Linked DNA regions of Homo sapiens: region 2 is linked to region 1. The links come from fine-mapping of genetic effects on gene expression. A gene starts in region 1. The other region holds a variant in brackets. All regions are shown on one strand. Distances are between the middles of the regions.

The links.
Region 2: its variant is fine-mapped to the expression of STRADB in whole blood (INTERVAL, PIP above 0.99).

The regions. Positions count from the first base shown.
Region 1 is chr2:201,445,469-201,457,832 of GRCh38, reverse strand. It overlaps STRADB (STE20 related adaptor beta), which reads right to left and starts at 6,093. Exons shown (of 12, transcript NM_018571.6): 1 at 5,895-6,093; 2 at 2,981-3,087. The coding sequence starts at 2,992. TRAK2 (trafficking kinesin protein 2) reads left to right here and starts at 6,375. Exons shown (of 16, transcript NM_015049.3): 1 at 6,375-6,483. RefSeq lists a silencer at 5,523-6,202 and enhancers at 6,233-6,762, 6,166-7,020.
Region 2 is chr2:201,383,727-201,391,726 of GRCh38, reverse strand. It overlaps TRAK2 (trafficking kinesin protein 2), which reads left to right. Exons shown (of 16, transcript NM_015049.3): 11 at 1,847-1,926; 12 at 2,224-2,427; 13 at 3,726-4,024; 14 at 5,243-5,509; 15 at 7,511-7,616. Among named protein-coding and RNA genes, the nearest start is that of FLACC1, 30 kb to the right of the region's middle. The variant T/G (reference allele first, on the strand shown) is at 3,577.

The sequences.
Region 1 (12,364 bases):
AGGCTGGTTTCAGACTCCTGACCTCAATCAAGTGTTCCGCCCACCTCAGCCTTCCAAAGTGCTGGGATTATAGGCGTGAGCCACCACAGCCATTTCAGAATTTTTCATTTCAAGCATCTTATTTTTATATTAACATTAAAGTACAATATCAAATGAGTCTCTTAAGATATGTCTACCTATGTCTACTTAACACTTTGTAGTCAATTACTTAAATATAAATTTCCTTTTAAGATATGCCAGAATTTCTCACTAATCAAACTAGTCATTGTCCCAGTTAGCCTTCATTACTGATTATTTTAACTTGAATTCCTACAGTCTGTATACTTTATAAATCTATTACAAAAATTTGGTATATATTCCCACTGTTTTATGTAAAACTCACCCTGAAGAATAGACGCTAACAATGTCAAGATAGCTGTACAACTGATTCCTCTGCAGAGTTTCTAATGGCTTCCTAGGGTGAATAACATTTATAATAAAACAGTTTTTGAAGATACTTATTACTGTTGTTCATATTGAAAATATCCACCAGCTGGGCAGGACATTTATATATTGTTTGGTATTTATATATTTTTACAACATTTAGCTTGAATTTTTCACAACGACCATTAATACCACTGTGCAAAAGAAGAATTAACAGCAGGCCTAAAACTGCTATTCTTAGAAAATAGCTGCTTATAAGGTTGACCCTTGGCTAGTATCTGGGAACTGGGATTTTGCAGAGGTTCCCTTCATAAGAATCGCTCACTGTGTCTAAACTGTTTGTGCAAATAATACAGTTTATGCTGAACACCTGGCTTTTTTTCTGGGAGACTGGAATTTTGTTACTTGCTAGCAGAGCACGCCTACGTGACAAGTCCCCAATAAAAACCTTAAGTCCAAGTCTCTAATGAGCTTCCCTAGTAGACAACATTTCACATGTCACAACTCTGGGGGAACTGTGCATATACTATGGAACTCCACTGAGAAAAGATTCTTGAAAGCTTGTGCCTGGTTTCCTCTGAACTTCACCCCACATACCTTTTCCCTTTGAATATTTTTGAATATAATTTCTTTATCCATTATCATAATAGCCAAGTAAAAAGTAGTTAGACCTTACAAAGAAACTGAAAGAAGATATTTTTACATATGCTGCTCCTTTGAAAACAGCATTTCTTAGTTCTCAAATAGAGGGTAAAACTTGAATGGGGAGGAATCCTTAAGTAAAAGTATCAACTTTATCCCAACTGCACAAATTTCTCGTTTAAGGAAAAAAAGTAAATATTTCGATTCAAAGAATTTAAAATATTTCACCATTGCAGAAAAATGTGATTTAAAGTTACAATCATTAACGATATAAATCACCCATTATCACATTCTATTATTTTTCACAAAACCCATAATTATGGAATAATAGGCTAAGATATTCTTTTTCCAAAATTTGAAAGCCCTGGGCAACACACAGCCCTTTGAATCTCACAATTCTCGCCTATCAAATGAAGGGAATAGACTGAATGCCCTTTCACATCTTTTCCAACTTAAAAATTGATATAAAATTGTAAATCTTAAGTAATCCTTTAGAGTAAGGGTCGGCAAACTATGGTCCATGAGCCAAATCTGACCCACCACCTGTTTTTGTGAGTAAAGTTTTACTGGAACACAGATACATTCATTCATTCATTTATATATTGCCTATGGCTGCTTTCATGCTAGTATTTCAGCAGAAAAGTAGCTGTAACAAAGACCAAAGGGTCTGTAAATACTATCTGGCCTTTACAGAAAAGCTTGCTGATCCCTCCTTTACAGAATAAAACATTTCACCTCCGTGTATTTTCCAGATATATAAAGCTTCTCTTTCAAGTGGTAATGCTTTACTTTAAACATGTAAGTAACTGTGTTATGTATTTTCCATATTACTAACAATCCAGTCTTCTAACTTCATAGTTCTGCCTCTCAGCCTTGGTAATTGATAGAATAGATTGGCAGGTATGAGTCTGGCTCCAACTTTTTGCAATCTTGGACAAACTGAAAATGAGGATAATGCCACCTGCCCTGCTAAACTTACACAATTTGAAACTATGAAAGAAATATATGAAAGTATTTGTAAACTATAAATCATCATACAAATATACTCATCCTTTTTTTTTTTTGAGACAGGATCTCCCTCTATCACCCAGGCTGGAATGCAATGGCATGATCACAGTTCACTGCAGCCTTGATCCCTTGTTCAAGGGATCCTCCCACCTTAACCCTCTGAGTAGCTGAGACTACAGGCATATGACACTACGTCTGGCTAATATTTTATACAGACAGGATCTCACTATGTTGCCTAGGCTGGTGTTGAACTCCTGGGTTCAACTGATTCTCTAGCCTTGGCCCCTAAAAATGCTGGGATTACAGGTGTGAGCCACTACACGTGGTCTACTCATTACTTTTTTAAAAACCACATTTTAATATAAGTATTCCCTATTCAAATATTATTATTATGTATAAAACAGGATGAAAGTCCTCAAGCTACTTAATCTAAAGTAGATACCACGGATCTAAATATAAATAGAAAACCAGTTGGCAGCTATACCTCATATATACATTGATCCAAATGATTTTATTTCGGTTAAGTCAAAGGGGTTATTTTTAATACTGTTTGGCTTGCTTTTGGTCAGATGGAAATTTGTAAAAGGAATTTCTGAAAGATTTAAAAGATAAGGCATAGCTAACTGGTGTGGGTGGCATATCAAAGTATAACACCTATGAGAAAAAGTAGATATGGGACAAAAGATTAGAATAATGAACATATTGAAGTATACGAGAAGTTCTTTATGAAAGAAAGAAAAACTCAATGAGAATGTAATTCATTTCTCAAGTCCAGAAGTCAATCAGGTCAAAACAATATCTCAGAGCATAAGAATATCCCATCAGAATATGCCTTTTATTATGGCTTGGCATTAACATCCAACTACTCTGACAGAACAAAATCAGATCTATATTTACAAAAACTTACCAAAAGAGACATTGAATCACTTTAGTTCACACAGAAAGTGACAAAAATCCATCTATTCCAAAGAAGGCTTTTGTTTTATCTTCCTTTCAAGATGCAGATATATCCTACTATAAAAAACAAAAGCAAAATAATTTAGATTCACATAAAAGTTCCTTAAAGAACCAGTTGCCTTAAACCCATCCAATATTTAGGCAGCTATTCCCTGATACCCAATATTTAGGCAGCTACTCCTTGACACAAGGAGACATTCCTGAAAAGTATCTTTAAAGAGCATTTATTTTTTACTGAACATTATTTGTGATCTGACATCACAACCAAGAAGCAGAGTGAAAACAAAAAGAAGTCCTGAATATTTCCAAAGCCTCAATATGTTTGCATTTCTCCTTCCCTATCTTTTCTATACTGTTTTTTGTTTGTTTTTTAAAGAACGCTGAGCAAATTTGAAAGCAATGTAGAAAACCAATTTTTGGCCCACTTTTGATATAAACAGTGTCACTTACAATAAACCCCAAGAATTTTCAATGGTTCCACATATTACAACTAAACTTTGAGACTTTCCAAAGCCCTTTCTTATTGGATTAATTACGTATTAAATCATTTGGGGTCCCTGACCAGCAAATATGGGAAAGAATCAGAATAACAGACTAGGAAATTAATTCAAGGAGATACAAAAGCACCATCCACGGTTTCCAGACCTTTACTAATAGAAAGGGTGGCAATCTTGTAAGTTTGTGGGTTCAGAGCATCCCTTTACATCTAACCAACATCATCTCTTTCATCTAAATTGTGCTTCATTATTTCAACTCCCCAAATTTGATGAACCCATCTACAAATATGTGAGCAGGATGAGAAAGGGAAGATTTTGTAAACCATAAAAACCATAAAGCAATATCCAATTTTATTGCTAAAGAAAGAGGTGAATTTATTCAGGATGTTCACTATGAACCAAAGGTAGAGATTGGGAGGAAGACGGACCTGAAAGGCTGTGATCATTTAGCCACCTACCATTCATTACCGTCAATTTAAAGCACTGGAGTTTGCTGTGCTGCAAAAGGAGGAAAGCAATGCCTGCCCTGCCAACCTTCCAGGGTGAATGAAATCAAATGAGTTACATCTCAAAGTGCCCCTAATTAGCAAACACTGTATCAGCTTGAACTATGCTTTGAAAGGTACACTCAAATGTACTGATGGCAGTACAAAACTATAAGGTTTATTTGGAAAGCAGGTTGTCAAATGTTTCAATAACCATGAAAATATTCATACTTTTTGACCCAGTAAAATTCCCCGGAGTGATCTATTCTAAGGAGATATCCAAGTAAATGAAGAAACTACACATCATAGTCAATACACTGTTAATCTGTTAACAGCCAAGTAATCATTACACAAGTGTTTAATGAGTGGTTACCATGGGTCAGGCACTGTGGACACCCGCTGGTAATCAGGGCAGACAAGACCCTGGCCACTTGTAGCTGACCTTCCCACAAGCAGAAGGGTTATGGATGTCATGATTAACCAAATTTTCTGGTTATCATGATTTTGTATCCTGCTTTTTTCACTCAATGTCAGCAAGTTGTTACTGATTTTGTCTTAATAATGTGAAACTCCATTACGTTGTCTATTTTTTTCTCTTTTTCAGAAAAGCTCAGAAGAAACAGACACAATCTGGTAAGAATTGTTAGTAATAAAAGGGTTGTCCCTATGGGGTGGTTTAATCTCAGAGATTTTTGCCTTAGATACACCAGACTATTAAGAGATAATTTTACAAGACATTTTGAGGTCAAGGCAGCAGCTGCACCCAGCAAAGGGGTGGGGGTGGGGGATTTGCTGTTATTATAATTTTCTCCGGCATGCTCTTTCACGAGATATGAATATAAACCCTTTCTTAAAAAAAAGTCATATTTAAGAGACTTATATTTCGTATTCACAAGTACATCAGTGCAGTCCCTTACACTTGTATCCAAAACGCTAATTACGATAAAGCTTTATAAGTAATTTCAGTTTGTTCCATAATAGAATGGTTCATGTGAAGACTTTGATCTGAAAGATTAACACTTTCTGTAGAAACCAAAGGGCGCATCTTCTAGAACACGGGTTTTGAGTTAATTTAGGCATTCAACAGAGGCCACTGTTACAGGGAATGCAAAAATGACCCGATGTAACTCTTTGTTGAGCTTTAAAATTACTGTAATTTTCAAAGTGATCTTGGGAACCCATAAAATCTTAACAAAGATCATAGCGACGCACAGTTCAGGAGAATTTTCCAAGCTTAGTGACTCATGCGTTCAACAAATCTTTACTGAGCGCCTACTGGGTGCCAGGCACCGTGCTAAGCAGGCGCCGTGTTACACATCCGTATCAAGTTTTGGGGAAAAGGTACTTGACAAAGACCCAGCAGGGAAAAACACAGCGTTGAATTGAAAAACCGAAGACAAAACGACACTCGAGTATTTAATTTTGTAAAAGGTTCCTTCCTAGTCCTGCTATGGGGGACTTTGCAGCGAACTTGCAGAAGGCGGCAGATAGAGCTGGGGTCTGAGGGTGTCTTCGATATGGCAACTCCCCAAGCCCGAGAGCGCGGCCAAAGGTGAGGGGTGCGGGGAGAGGGCGCCCGGGCGGCCTGGGCCCCGCGCACCTGGCACGGCCGGCACGGCCAACCCGGCAGGCACCACTGGGCGGGCTGCGAACCCGCGGCCCGGGCCCCGCTGAGCCCGAGCTGCACTGGCGCAGTGGCTGCTCGCCACCTCGGGCCGCATTCTTGCCACGGCTCCCGCCAGCCGCCGGTGCTCGGGCTGGAGGTGGGCTAGCGCGTTCTGGCCTCTGGCTTCCCGGGCGTGCGCGGACCAAGGCTCACTCCCTCACACGTCCCCCACCGGCCCCGACACCTTCCCTTCCCGGGCCTGCCTCCCGTCTTTACCCTAGCGGCGACCACGGCCAGCGACTCTCTTCAGGCTGCCAGCGGTGCGGACAGGGGCGGGCGCCAGAGCCCTGCTCGCGGAGGGGCGAGGCGAGCGCTCTAGGCCCGCTCCCGGCGCGGGGCGCGGGAGGGCGGCGAGGCCGCGACCGGGGCCGTGGGCTTGGAACTCTGCACCAGTCCCAGGCTACCCGCTGGGAACGCATTCGCCCCACCCGCGCCGGGGTCGCGGCCCCGCCTCCCTCCCCGGGGCTGGGCAGCGAGAAGGCGGGGCCTTCGAGCTTGAGGCGGGGCGGGCAGGAAACTACAATTCCCAGCAGGTCTTGCGCTGGGGCCGTGGAGGCCGCTGGGAGAGTGGCTCTCCTTTGGCTTCCCCAATTGTGTGGGGGCTGCCATTGACCCGGTGTCGCCGCAGAACCGAGGTCGCCGAGTGATGATGTTGTGAAGTCGCCCGCCTGTCCCTGCCACGCCCGGGCGGTTGCTGGCAGTGGGAGCAGCGGCAGCAGCTTCGGCTGCTGCTTTCAGGCTGCCGCTGCATTAGGGGCTTCCTGAGGAAGCGCGGGCGGACGACAGAGGATGCCGAACCACTCCAGTGAGTAAGCTGTCCGCGCAGAACCCGAACTTGCCCTTGACAACTTCCCCGGAAAGCGGAGGGACCTCCTCGTCCCAAGGTCCTCCGGTACCCGGAGGTCACGCGCGGACGTCGGAGCCGGAGGCTGGGTGCTGGAGGGCTGGGTCCGGGTCCCGCGGTGAGGCGTGGGTTGTTTCCTAAGTGTGGGTGCAAAGTAATGGGCGCTAGGCGCTGGCGTCGGTATTCAGCCCAGCTGCACATCTGAGGCTTGGCAGCTTCTCATAGCGCCTTATCCTCTGCCATACAGCATCCATCTGGAGCCCTGTCTTTTAGGATGAGTGGCTTTAGGGTCGGGCATTAAACCTTAAGCTTCAGTCGCCATCTGTGATGTAAGTGGGAGGAGAGGGTATTGGAAAGAGCTCTTTCTGGGTCAAATAGAGTTGGGCTTTTCTTGCAATTGATTTTGAGCCAGATGCCACATATCTTGAAAAAGAAAAACGGCTGACTTTAGTTTGAAGCGTAAATAATAGATATTCGCACATGTCCTTTTTAGTAGCAGCCCAAAAATTGAATTTCAACTTAAAAAAAAATCTGCGTCATAATAATAGGGATGTTACTTGCTCTTGCTCATGCACCTTTTGCTTAGACCTGCTGTTTCTACGTCAGAAAAAAAAAAAAAAAAGGTAACTTCACAGGATATTCATCAAGTTGATGGAATGGACCATAGGAACAAAAGGAACACTTTCAGTTCTTGGTCTCCGTAAATCTTCCCGACCTTTAGATCTTTGCTGTTGACTTGGAAGTCTGAGGTACAGTAGTCTCCAAATAGCAGGTTAATGGTGGTGACATGACACTTAAAAACAAATTGTGAAGGACATTTGGAGGTGAGAAAGGTCAGGGATGAAGACATTTTATCATCCTAGCAGTTATTCCAACTTTCTTTTCTTTTTTTTTTTTAAGACAGAGTCTCGCTCTGTCGCCAGGCTGGAGTGCAGTGGGGTGATCTCGGCTCACTGCAACCTCCGCCTCCCGGATTCAAGCGATTCTCCTGCCTCAGCCTGCAGAGTAGCTGGGACTACAGGCGCGCACCACCACGCCCAGCTAATTTTTGTGTTTTTAGTAGAGATGGGGTTTCACCATGTTGGCCAGGATGGTCTCGATCTCTTGACCTCATGATCCACCCGCTTTGGCCTCCCAAAGTGCTGGGATTACAGACGTGAGCCGCCACACCCAGCTCCAGTTTTCTATTTTTAAAATTAAGTAATGTCCAGCAAGTCTCAGACATTTAGCAAGCACATACCATGTGAAAGACAGTGTTTTGTTATCTTACACACTTATTCATATGATGGAAGAGGTTTGTTAGAAAGAACCAACATTTGGCCGGGCGCTGTGGCTCACTCCTGTAATCCCAGCACTTTGGGAGGCCAAGGAGGACAGATCTCCTGAGGTGGAGAGTTCAAGAACAGCCTGACCAACATGGAGAAACCCGTCTCTACTGAAAGGAAATACACCAGCCTGGCCAATATGGTGAAACCCCGTCTCTACTAAAAATACAGAAATTAGCCGGGCGTGGTGGCACGCGCCTGTAGTCCCAGCTACTCGGAGGCTAAGGCAGAAGAATTGCTTGAACCCGGAGGCAGAGGTTGCAGTGAGCCAAGATTGCACCCCTGCACTCCAGCCTGGGCAACAGCGAGACTCCATCTCAAAAAAAAAAAAAAATTAGCCAGGCATGGTGGCACATGCCTGCAGTCCCAGCTACTGAGGAGGCTGAGGCAGGAGAATCGCTTGAACCCAGGAGGCGGAGGTTGCGGTGAGCCAAGATCGAGCCATTGCACTCCAGTCTGGGCAACAAGAGTGAAACTCAGTCTCAAAAAAAAAAAAAAAAAAAAAGAACCAACATTTTAGTATTTGCAATCTGCCAGGCACCCCAGGTGGGAGCTCTTCATACTTTAGCTCACTTAATCACTTTAACAAACCTATCACACTAATCTGAGGCTCAAAGACTTGCTTATGTAACAAGGGGAGATTTAAATCTAGATCTGCCTTGCTTCCAAGTCACAGATCAGGTAACTAATACGTACTTCAGAAATTATAGACTTTAAAGGTTGAGTGGTTAAAGAGGATTGTCTAGTGTTATTGTCTAAGACTGGTTCCAACACACACCTTGGACATCTGGAATAAGTCCTGAACCCCTGCTTTAGTACTTTTGAACAAACTGATTCTCTCTGCCTACAATTCCCATTTCTTACTGAACTGCTCAGTAAGACCCGAAAAGCCCATTCCAAATCCATCTCACTTATGTAAGAAATTATAAGACTGGACTTTTATCAAAAGGTTCTTTTCAGTTTACAGGTTTTGTGAGTCTGCAAATAAAAATATGACCCTGCTGGGTGTGGTGACTCACACCTGTAATCTCAGCACTTTGAGAGCCCGAGGCAGGAGGATGACTTGAGACCAGCCTGTTCAACATAGCAAAACCCCATGTCTACCAAAAATAAAAAATAGCTGGGTGTGGTTGTTTGTGCCTGTAGTGCCAGCTGAGATCAAAGGATCCCTTGAGCGATGATGGCACCACTGCACTCCAGCTTGAGTGACAGAGTGAGACGCCATCTCTAAAAAAAATTAAAATACGAGCAGAGAAGTGTTATTCTCCACTGAAACTTTCTTTGCTTTAGTGCCCCAAATATGTTAAATACCAGTATAAGGAATGAGACAGATAATGTCTTATTTCATGTTTATTGTGAGCTCTCATTATATTATCTGTACCAGTTTTGAACCTCTTTAGTTACCATCCTGTTTAGTTGGTAAGAAATAGGAGGCAAAAAGGTAATAGTCACATTTAAATGACTTAGTAATTAAAAGAACTAAATTATTCATAGTTGAGTCATTATCTGTTCAGATCTGCAGTGTTCTTATAATAATAGGAAACATTTATGTAATACTATGTGTTAGATAATGTTTTACCTATATTAACTTATCCTCACAATAGCACTGAGGTGTTTTTATAGATAGGCAACTAAAGCAAAGAGAAGATAGTAAATATACCAAAGGTCATGTAGCTACTACATGGTAGTACTGAGTGTCAGAGAAGACAAGATCAAAATCTGTAATCTAACATTTATTGAGAACCTACTGTGTACCAGCCCCACAGCTGGGTGCTTTCATTATGAGTTAGTCATTTGTCTTTACAACTACCTTATTTAAAATGGAAGTTCAGCATGTAATGACTTGCTCAGAGTCACAGATAAGTAAACTGTGGAATCAGGATTTGAACCCATGCTTGTCGTACTTCAAGGTTCCTGTTCTTTCTTTCATTTTCCTTCAGTGATCAAATCTTTATTAAACACCTTCTGTGTGCCACACACTGTGCCAATGCTAGGAATTTAGTCTTTGCTCTTAAGGAATGTAGTTTGAAGAAGGAAAGAGACAATTAACATAGTGTGTTGAGCAATGGGATCACAGCTTGCCGAGGTACTTTGGGAGCACAGAGAAAGAACACTGAAGTTACTCTGGAGTGGGAAGGCTTGGACCAGTCTTGGGAAAACAAATGGGAATTAGCCTGGGCAGAGAAAAGGGGAAGGGGTTGTTATGGGCTGAATTGTGTCCTCCCAAAATTATATTGAAGCCCTAACAGCCGTAACCTCAGAATGTGACTGTATTTGGAGACAGGGCTTTGGGGTGATTAAGTTCAGATGAAGCCGTTAGGGTGGGTTCTAATCCAGTCTGACAGTTTTCCTTATAAGAAGGAAATTTGAGCACAAAAAGAGACACAGGAGTTGCACACACAAAGGAAAGACCATGTGAGGATTCATCAAGAAGACCAAGGAGAGAGGCCTCAGGAGAAACCAACCTGCCAACACCTTGATTTTGGACTTCCAGACTCCAGTATTGTGAAAAAATAAATTTCTGTTGTTGAAGCCACCCAGTCTGTGGTAGTTTTTTATGGAACCCCTAGCAAACTAACAAATAGGTGTTCTAGGCAAAAGGAATGACATACAAAAAGGCTTTAAGCTGTGGTTAGGTGATAGAAGTTGACATACAAAAAGCCTTTAAGCTGTGGTTAGGTGATTGAGGTTTTTTGGTGAAGAGATAAATGTTGAGAGAAATGAAACTGGAGACTAGGCTGGGGCTGGATTAGGAAGATTTTACATGAGATGCCAAGGGGCTTAAACTTTATCCTAAGGAAGATGGGATGGAGGTGGTTTGTAGCAGTGGAAAAGCATTAGATTTGCATTTTAGAAAGACTAAGACTTGTAAAGGATAAATGAAAGGTAATAAGACCGGAGACAAGGTAACCAAGGTAGCTAGTGCCACAGGATGCTGAACTAACAGTTTTCCCAGAATATTGAAATGTCTAACTAAAACAGAGCCACTGTTAATATAACATTATAAAGGGCACAGCTAACCCTTAGGGTGTACATAAGAAGATAGGGAAAGAATTTGTATATAGCTGTTTGTACCCAGAGGCTGTCTTTATTTTGACATTTTGCTTTTCCTTGTATAGATCATAAAGCTTTATACAACTATCAGAATATTCAGATTTTTCCACTCTAAAAAGTGATCTTATGTATTTAATAGACACTTTTATGGTGCTGACACAGATTTAAGCCAAATTCTTTGACAACCTTTTGAAATACCTACTATTCATTTTAAACGTAAACATACTGAAGCACAGAGAGATTAAGTAGCTTGTCCAAGATCACATAGCTAACAGGCAGCAGAGTTAAGATTCAAACTCAGTCTGTCTTTAGAGTCTGTGTTCTTGGCTTTACACTGTGCTGTTGCTATATGATATTTATCTAGCTCTTTATTTGTGAAAAGAGGGCAGAGTAATACAAAAATAAGTATGTTTGCTGTAAGAGGCATGCAGTTTATCAGAGGAGATAAGGAACAGCTCTAAGGTTTTAAAAACTGTTTTAGAGAAGAGCAGAAAGTGTTCGGAGGCAATACCTCCTTCAAGTTGGGGTTTCTGGGAAGGCCTGTTGGGAAAAGTGGCATTGAGCTGGTGTGGGAAGCATGGCTAGAATTTGGATATGTAGAATGGGGAGAGGACATTAAAATTAGAAGAAATAGCATGGACAGAGTTACAGGACTGAGAATTTCCTGGTGTGTCTAGGAAGCTAGTAAATGCAGTTCTTTCTTTTGGCTGGAATATGTTGTGTGGTTGGGGAAGATGGAGAAGCTAGTTTGCAGGGAGGGGAAATGTCTGGGGAAGAGAATTCTCGGGGAGTGAGGGGCAAGAGAAGTTGTAAGGTTTCAAGCCTGAGTAATTGAGGCATATGCCAGATGTAGTTATCTTTTAGGAGAGGAAAAAGTTCATCTATCCCCAACTCATCAGTTAACAGGTCCTGTTTTCACTATCTCACAAACCCGTAAATCCTTCTTAAAATTTCCATTCACCTAGTTTATACCTTTATTAAAATAATCCATGCGTAAATGTGATAAAATTTTCTAATTATTTTTGTCTCTAATCTCTCCATTCCAAAATTTATCCTGCATCCTGCATTTACATTTATTTCTCTCAAATGTCACTTCTATTTAGAAATGTGTTCCCTGCAGGATCAAGTTCAGACTTCTTAATCTGAACTAGTCAAATTTAAATCTCCAAATACCTTCCCCATAATTCTTCCCACTCAAATTGGTCTGTATATGCTGCCAACCTGGCTCTGTCTGCTACTTGCTGTTGGATATTATCATTATTATTTTCTCCTACCAGATAGTCTCCTCACCTATCCAAATCTTTTCCTCCTTAGGGAGTCCACTTAAATCTTACATCCTGTGTGAAGCCAGACCACCTCAGCTAGAAAAGAGCTCTCTCCCGACAATTCTGTTGTAACACTCATCAAATATTTATTATCTGGTACTATCTTATTTTCTTAGATTTCTTAGCTCATTGGATATT
Region 2 (8,000 bases), 64 kb after region 1:
AATGTCTGTTTAGCCCATTGCAGGTGGTATTAATTAACTTTGATCTCTTGGTTAAGGTAATCTGCTGGTTTTTTCCACTGTAAAGTTAACGGTAATTAACAGTTAATTAAATTAACACTACTAATTCACCGTGTAGTGATGAAAATCGGCAGATACTACCCCAACCAAGTGATCAAAGTAAACATTTTATGAGAGATACTTTGAGACTAAGTATCCTGTTCCTCATCAAACTATTACCCACTAGTTTTAGCACCCATTGATGGTTCTTATCTGGCAGAGTTATTACAGTGATGACTGCCAAATGGTGATTTTCAAATTTCATCATTTTTCAACATTTATTAATTGGCATTTTTCTTTTGTAAGTTAGTGCATTCCTGTCCCATTTATTTGTTCATTTGTTCACTTAGGTATGTCATGGACTCATGGATTTCTATTTTATTCAATAGATTACAAGCTATTGTTGTATATTCAATCTGTATGTAGGATATTCAGATTGTCCTAGATATGATCAGTAGGATCTCCTTTAAGCTGATCTTGTACTTTTTGTCTCAGCCCTGGAATCAGCCATTTCTCCAAAGAGCTCTGGTTACTTTTATTGAAGAATTGTATTTCGAATCCAAGATCTGGGTGTTAGGTGTGCCCATTGATTGCTACTAGAGTATTGTGGCTTCTAGTCCCTCTCAGCAGGTAGGACTAGGAAATATATGTATTTCATACCTATACCTATACTATATATGTGTATATATATGTTTTCATCCATATATATATAAATATATATAATCATGAGTTCACACCATTGCCTCCAATTCCAGTCATCCTCAGCTGAGTCCCACTGAGCATGTCACCCATATTAGTTGAGTCCTCACCCCTGACCAGAGGAAGAGGAAGCTTGCTTTTTTTTTAAATGATTTTTAATGTTATAAAAGCTATGCATGTTTATTACAGAAAAGTTGGAAATTACAGAAAAGCAAAAAGCAATCGTTAAATACCATTAAATTCCACCCTCCACAGAATCACTGTCAACACTAGATTTAGTCCTCATCCCTGACTGGGGGGAAGAGGAAGCTTGCTTGTTCTTTTTTTTAAGTGATTTTTTAATATTATAAAAGCTATACATTGTTTTTTGTTGGTATTTTTGTTTTTACTTTTTTTTTTTTTTTTTTGAGACGGAGTCTCGCTCTGTCACCCAGACTGGAGTGCAGTGGTGCGATCTCAGCTCACTGAAAGCTCTGCCTCCCGGGTTCACGTCATTCTCCTGCCTCAGCCTCCCGAGTAGCTGGGACTACAGGCGCCCGCCAGCACACCCGGCTAATTTTTTTTTTTTTTTTGTATTTTTTTGTATTTTTAGTAGAGACAGGGTTTCACCATGTTAGCCAGGATGGTCTCGATCTCCTGACCTCGTGATCCACCCACCTTGGCCTCCCAAAGTGCTGGGATTACAGGTGTGAGCCACCGCACCCGGCCAGCTATACATGATTATTATAGAAAAGCTAGAAATTACAGAAAAGCAAAAAAAAAATTGTTAAATACCATTAAATCTCACCCTCCACAGCATCACTGTCAACACTGGGTTTATGGCCTTTCAGACCTTTTGTTTTTGTGTGCCTGCACATATATTTTCTATTTATCATATCAGCTTTTTCCACTACTTTCCTATTTGAAAAGATTATGAAAAGGTAGTTGGTTCTTATTTAAAAGTTATATTTCCAGAATGTCTTTTTTCCCCTGAATGTTAGCCTTGACTATTTCCTTGTATTTTATTATAAAACCAAAAGTATAGGATTGTAGAGACTCTGTTAATTTAAGGGCAACAATCACTTTAGAAATCTCAAACTCTTTTTCTTAGGAATCTTTGGCAGCTGAGATTGAGGGGACTATGCGTAAAAAGCTGAGTTTGGATGAGGAATCTTCTCTCTTTAAACAAAAGTAAGTACAGGTCACATGTGTTGTTACTCAATCATTGGAATAGAAATTAAAAAGAAGCCACAATCCAAAGTGGCAAGTATTACGAGATTCAGTAGTAATTTGCTTACTATTCAGTGTTTTCCTCACAGTGTCCTTTTTTTGTGAGAGAGTTCTCTTGTTTGAAAGCTTATTTTCTGATGATTTCTCCTAAATAGCTCCTCAGGGTGGCTTTATTTCTGATGGACTGCACATACATTCTCTTCTCTAGATGCTTTAGTGGCTAGCAGTGATAATAACGAACACTTCCTTTTTTGACAGAGCCCAACAGAAGCGGGTATTTGATACCGTCAGGATTGCCAATGACACACGGGGCCGCTCTATCTCATTCCCAGCTCTGTTACCCATTCCAGGCTCCAACCGTTCAAGTGTCATCATGACAGCAAAACCTTTTGAGTCTGGTCTTCAGCAAACAGAGGACAAATCACTCCTGAACCAGGGGAGCAGCTCAGAGGAGGTTGCAGGGTAGGAATCCGATGATAACAGTGATTCTGCATTTCTTTTCACATTGCCGCACCAGATTCACATACGCACATTCCAGCATTACTCTACTGTCCCAAGAAGGTTCTGGAACTGTCAGTTTTCCTTCACTTATGATGCCTTGTATCATTATTCATGAGACAGATCATGCCAAAGTCAAATTTTTTTGAATCTGTTTGGTCACTAGCATGAATACATCGGATGACACCTTCTCATAATCCGTGCTCATAATCTCAACCGCTTTGGTGATTTTTAGGATAAATGTAAGTTTGAATACATCTTGAGGACCATCGAGGTGCTGTCGATTTTCTGTTTATTTAAACTTGGATTTTTTTTTCATTCCTTTTATTAATTCAGTACATTGAATTCTATATAACTAGAAGGTAAACAACTTTACTGAAAAGTGAGCTGAAAGCTTTGCAAGATAGATGTTTGGCACCAAAGGGAAATGTTTCCTAACATAAAAATTCATCACACTAGGTTTCAGTTGCATTGCCTGGTCTGTCCTGGGCAGTGTTCTGCACCCACAGCAGCTTTGTGTCCTACTGCCTCACTGTCACACAATTATCTTAGGAGAAGATCTGAAACACATTTATGTGGATTTATACCCCAGTATCCCAGAGTACCCACAACTCAGCTTGCTGATCTTCCATTTGATATCAATTATAAGATAGCTTCCAGTTTCAAAAGTGTTGAAGTCAAAAAATGGGCATCAGACAACTATAAAAATGCAGTATTATATACAAATTTTGTTGTTTCCTTTTAAATGTTCTGCAGTGTTGATGGGTGATTCTGTGACCCAAAGCAAATTTTTTTCATATTTTAATATTTTTTAAATTATTATGTTTTGTAACTGATAGTATGCCTTAGTTTAATCCGTAGCGTTTTTTTCCTTCTTTATGATACATAAAATAATGGTACCTCTTGCAATCTATGATACAGATTCAGCAAAATATAATATTTACTTTCGTGACCACCTAATATGAATTTATAGATGGTTGAATGTGTAGTTTCATAAATTAAATGAAATAGAAAATTCAGAAAACACAGAATATCAATAAAGTATTATCTTGCCTTTCAAGTCATTTGCAATGATCTGTAAAAATGATATATAGTGTTGTTGGTGATTTTGGT[T/G]TGTTGTTATTACTTCTATATTCCAGGTATCTAGGAAAATATCATGTTTTTAATATCAGTCTCTTGAATGCTTACCATTATAGAAAGGAGAGGTCTGGGTCATGCTGATGATCCTCAAGATCTAATCAGTGAACGCGATTTTCCTATAGGAGCTCCCAGAAGATGGGCCAACCAGGACCCTCAGGAGATAGTGATTTGGCTACAGCACTGCATCGCCTTAGCTTGCGTCGACAAAACTATTTAAGTGAGAAGCAGTTCTTTGCTGAAGAATGGCAGCGGAAGATCCAGGTTCTGGCAGACCAGAAGGAAGGAGTTAGTGGCTGTGTCACCCCGACAGAGAGCCTTGCCTCTCTCTGCACCACCCAGTCAGAGATCACAGACCTCAGCAGTGCCAGTTGCCTTCGAGGTTTTATGCCAGAAAAATTACAAATTGTCAAGCCCCTTGAAGGTAATAAATCAGTAAGGGCCCTTACTAAGCCATGTGACTTACTGGAAGTTCCTTTCCCTGGAATTGAGATTTGTGTCTTAATTATAGGAACATTATGTGCAGATGATCTTTTTATCCCTTAATCTTGCTGTTTGGGTGGCAAGACTGTAGTACTTTGTGGAAAATTAATGAATGAAGAGAGTTGCATTCTCTGAATCATCAGCCAGCAGTTCTCTTCTGATGTTTTTTAATATAAACGTGAGCAGGGAAGAGGAGTAATCTTTTTCTGTCCTTTGCTAAGGAATATCATTGACAGCAGTTTCCATGGTTAGATGAATAAGATATGATAAATGATAATGATCTAGAGATAATAATTCATCTCCACCTTCCTTTTCAAAAGAGTTTTTTACCCAAAAGTATAATTGACTTAGAGGTGTGTGTGTACCTGTATTTTTCCTTTTTTCAGTTTAGTTTCTATACTCTCCTAAGAAAGAGCTTGAATTCAAAATAAATTCCTTCATTTTCTGGAACAATGACAATCATTGAATGATTCTCTGATATTATCCTAAAAGAGTTCTGCATTAAATGAAATTTTGAGTGTGTAACTTATAAAGACCCCTCAAACTCAAAGATTTTATAACTTAGTTGTATTCATTAATGATCAGTGCAGATATTTGTTGGAGTTGCCATTTTTAGGATGAAATGACTACAGTGACATAATTAGACATTGCATCTGGTGCAATTACTTGGGATGATCATTCACCAGGGTTCTGTAGCCTGGAACCAGTAGAACATATCCTCCTTTTCATTATCTTCTTCATTTTCCTATTCTCCCTGGGAGCCTGGCTTTTGACTTTCACCTTCATAGGCATAGTTCCAGGCCAGAGAAGTATTGACTTTTTTGTCACCTGGGAAAATACAGCCCACCTCTTAGGCACGTATCTTCCATCACTGCCTCAGCAGCTAAGCTCCTTTCCTATTAAGGGTGTCTCCTTGGGTTTTTTTTCACCCCTTTAGGTGTCCTCCTTAACTATTAAAACAGATTATGACTCATACCTTTGACATCTTGTCATCTTCCACTGAAAACTTTAATTTGCAGCTTTTACCAAATTATTAACACCAAATAAATAGTTTTATTGCTGTCATTATTGTTATTACACATATAATTTTAGCTTGTGTTTTAAGATTTGTGGGAAATGTAAAACATGCCTTTCCCCTTCCTTTGTTTTGCATATTCAGGATCACAAACTCTGTATCACTGGCAGCAGCTTGCTCAACCAAACTTGGGAACCATCCTTGATCCACGACCAGGTGTCATTACTAAAGGCTTTACCCAGTTGCCCGGGGATGCTATTTATCACATCTCAGATTTAGAAGAGGATGAAGAGGAGGGTATTACTTTTCAGGTTCAGCAACCTCTTGAAGTGGAAGAGAAACTTTCAACATCCAAGCCAGTAACAGGGATCTTCCTGCCACCCATTACTTCAGCAGGTGGACCAGTTACAGGTGAGAAGAGTGTCTGGTTGAATATGGTATAATAACCAGAAGTACTTTGCATTCTGACTTACTAGACAGTCAGCTGGCTACCTCTGCTCACTGGAGGGTACTTAATCTTGCATATCAGATAATGAAAATCTATAGCATTAGTGGCATTCCTAATTCTCTCCACTTTATCTTAGCCAGCCTGCGTTAGTAGATTGGGTAGAGAGCTGGATGAATTCAAGTCAGTGGTTCACAAACCTTTTGGGCTCAGAAACTCTTTATACTCTAAAAAATCATTGAGAATTCCAGAGAGCCTATCTGTGCAGGTTATATCTATTGACATTTAATATATCATAAATCAAAACTGAAAAACCATAAAAATATGTATTAACTCATTTAAAATAATTGTGTTACACAAATATGTTTAATGAAAAATAGCTAATTTTTTTACATAGTGAGAAAAACAGTTGTTCAAGTCTCTAATTTTTGACTTAATACAAAATAGCTTTATTCTCATTATCAGCATCTGCCTTCAGTCTATTGCAATATGTTGTTTCAGTTGAACAATATGAAGGAAATGCAGCCAGGCACAAACATGCAGTTGGAAAGAGTGTTTTAATAGTCTTTTCAGATATGTGTAGCTATTTTTTGATATTACACTAAAACTAGGTAAGTAGTAGTTTCTTGAACGTTTGTAGCAATGTGAGATCTGAAACCCTAACAATGAACTTTTCATTACTTTGTTAACATTAAAATGCATTGGTCAGGCTGGGTGTGGTAGCTCACACCTGTAATCCCAGCACTTTGGGAGATCGAGGTGGGCAGTCACCTGAGGTCAGGAGTTTGAGACCAGCCTGGCCAACATGGTGAAACCCTGTCTCTACTAAAAAAAAAAAAAAATTAAATTAAATGCATTGGTCGTATCCTACATTTTGAATATATCTTTGAGCCATGCTTGATTTTTAAGATCATGCGTTGGTCATTTAGAAAATGTTGATTGGTTCATGGAGTTATGCAGATTTTCCAAATATTGGCACATTTTATTACGTAAAAATATTAAAATCATATTAATATCACCACCTACTCATCAGAAAAGTCTTCAAGGATGTTCATGCTTTCAGTGGTGGATACGAGTTTTCCAAAACTCACTTTTTCTTGAAAGCTCACATTTTGTTAGCTGTTTTTCTTGAAGGACAGGCTCACTTCATTCATTTTTAACATGTCTGTCTTTCACCCAAGTCTGAATTACTATAGTTTGTCTGTTAGTTCTTTCAAGTAAAAATGGTATTCCATGAGAAAATTTCAAATCAGTTGCACAAGTGTTTTCCTCTAGATAACCACTGTATCTCAGTGTGCAGCAAGAGTGCTTAATACATCCTTCCCATTTTTCATCACACAGAACAGGAAAAAGACTCAACGGCCAAGATCCAAAATTTAATAGATAATTTTTACTGCTACTTCAAGGACATTCTTAAGTGAATATGGCTTTTTAAAAAATACCAAGTGCATAACAATAAAGAAGACTAGTACAACTTGGTGATATTGCCTTGTTTTGTGCTGAGGAGCCATCAATTTTGCCTTCCATTGCTTTTGCACCAGCAGTGCAAATGTCAACCCAGTCAAAAAGAAAAGGCCTCTGTCTTACCATTACTATGAAAGTAGCTTTGACATGTAGACTCCCACAGAGTCTGCAGACCACACTTTGAGAACCACTAGAGTAGATAAATTTGGCTGAATCATTTGGATACTAGATCTTGATTTTTTTAATGTATTTTTTCAGTTTTCTCATTTCTAATCTTTGTTTATGCCTTTTGCTTTACAGTTTTAAAGTATTGGATTCACCTATATACTAACCAGTTGATACTAGTACAATCTTTATGTATATTTATTTCATTTCCAGATTTGGGGATTTTTAATACAAAAGGTACTTGATAAATGCTATATTATTAATAAATAATGATGAGCTTTTTACATTATTAATCTAGACTTTCAATCTTGTATTTGCTCCCTAAAAATCTATTTCAGTTGCAACCGCCAACCCAGGAAAGTGCCTGTCGTGCACAAACTCAACATTCACTTTCACCACCTGTAGAATATTACATCCCTCTGACATCACTCAGGTTACCCCCAGGTAAGAGTGCCTGGGAAATCTGGGGCCTCACTTCTTTCCTCAGCTATATTTTCATGAATTTCTTTTTAAAATTACCTTCATTTTAATTTCCAGAATGTTAATTAATGTTCTGTGATAATGTGTCTTTAGAATATTTTCACATTGCATTTTCTCATTTGATTATTAAAAAAGTAGGCAGGGCAAGTGAGTATGTATTGTGTAGAGTAAACTGAGGCATGGAAGGTTGAGGTGACTGGTCCTAGGGCAGACAACTAATAAATAACGCAGCTGGGGCAATATACCCAGAGTTAGCCAAACTGCAAGATTTACAGGGCCAGTCCTCTGCACAAGCTCACCTTCACTTCTGACAACACCTGCAAGTGCAGAGGGTTCCCAAAACCACTT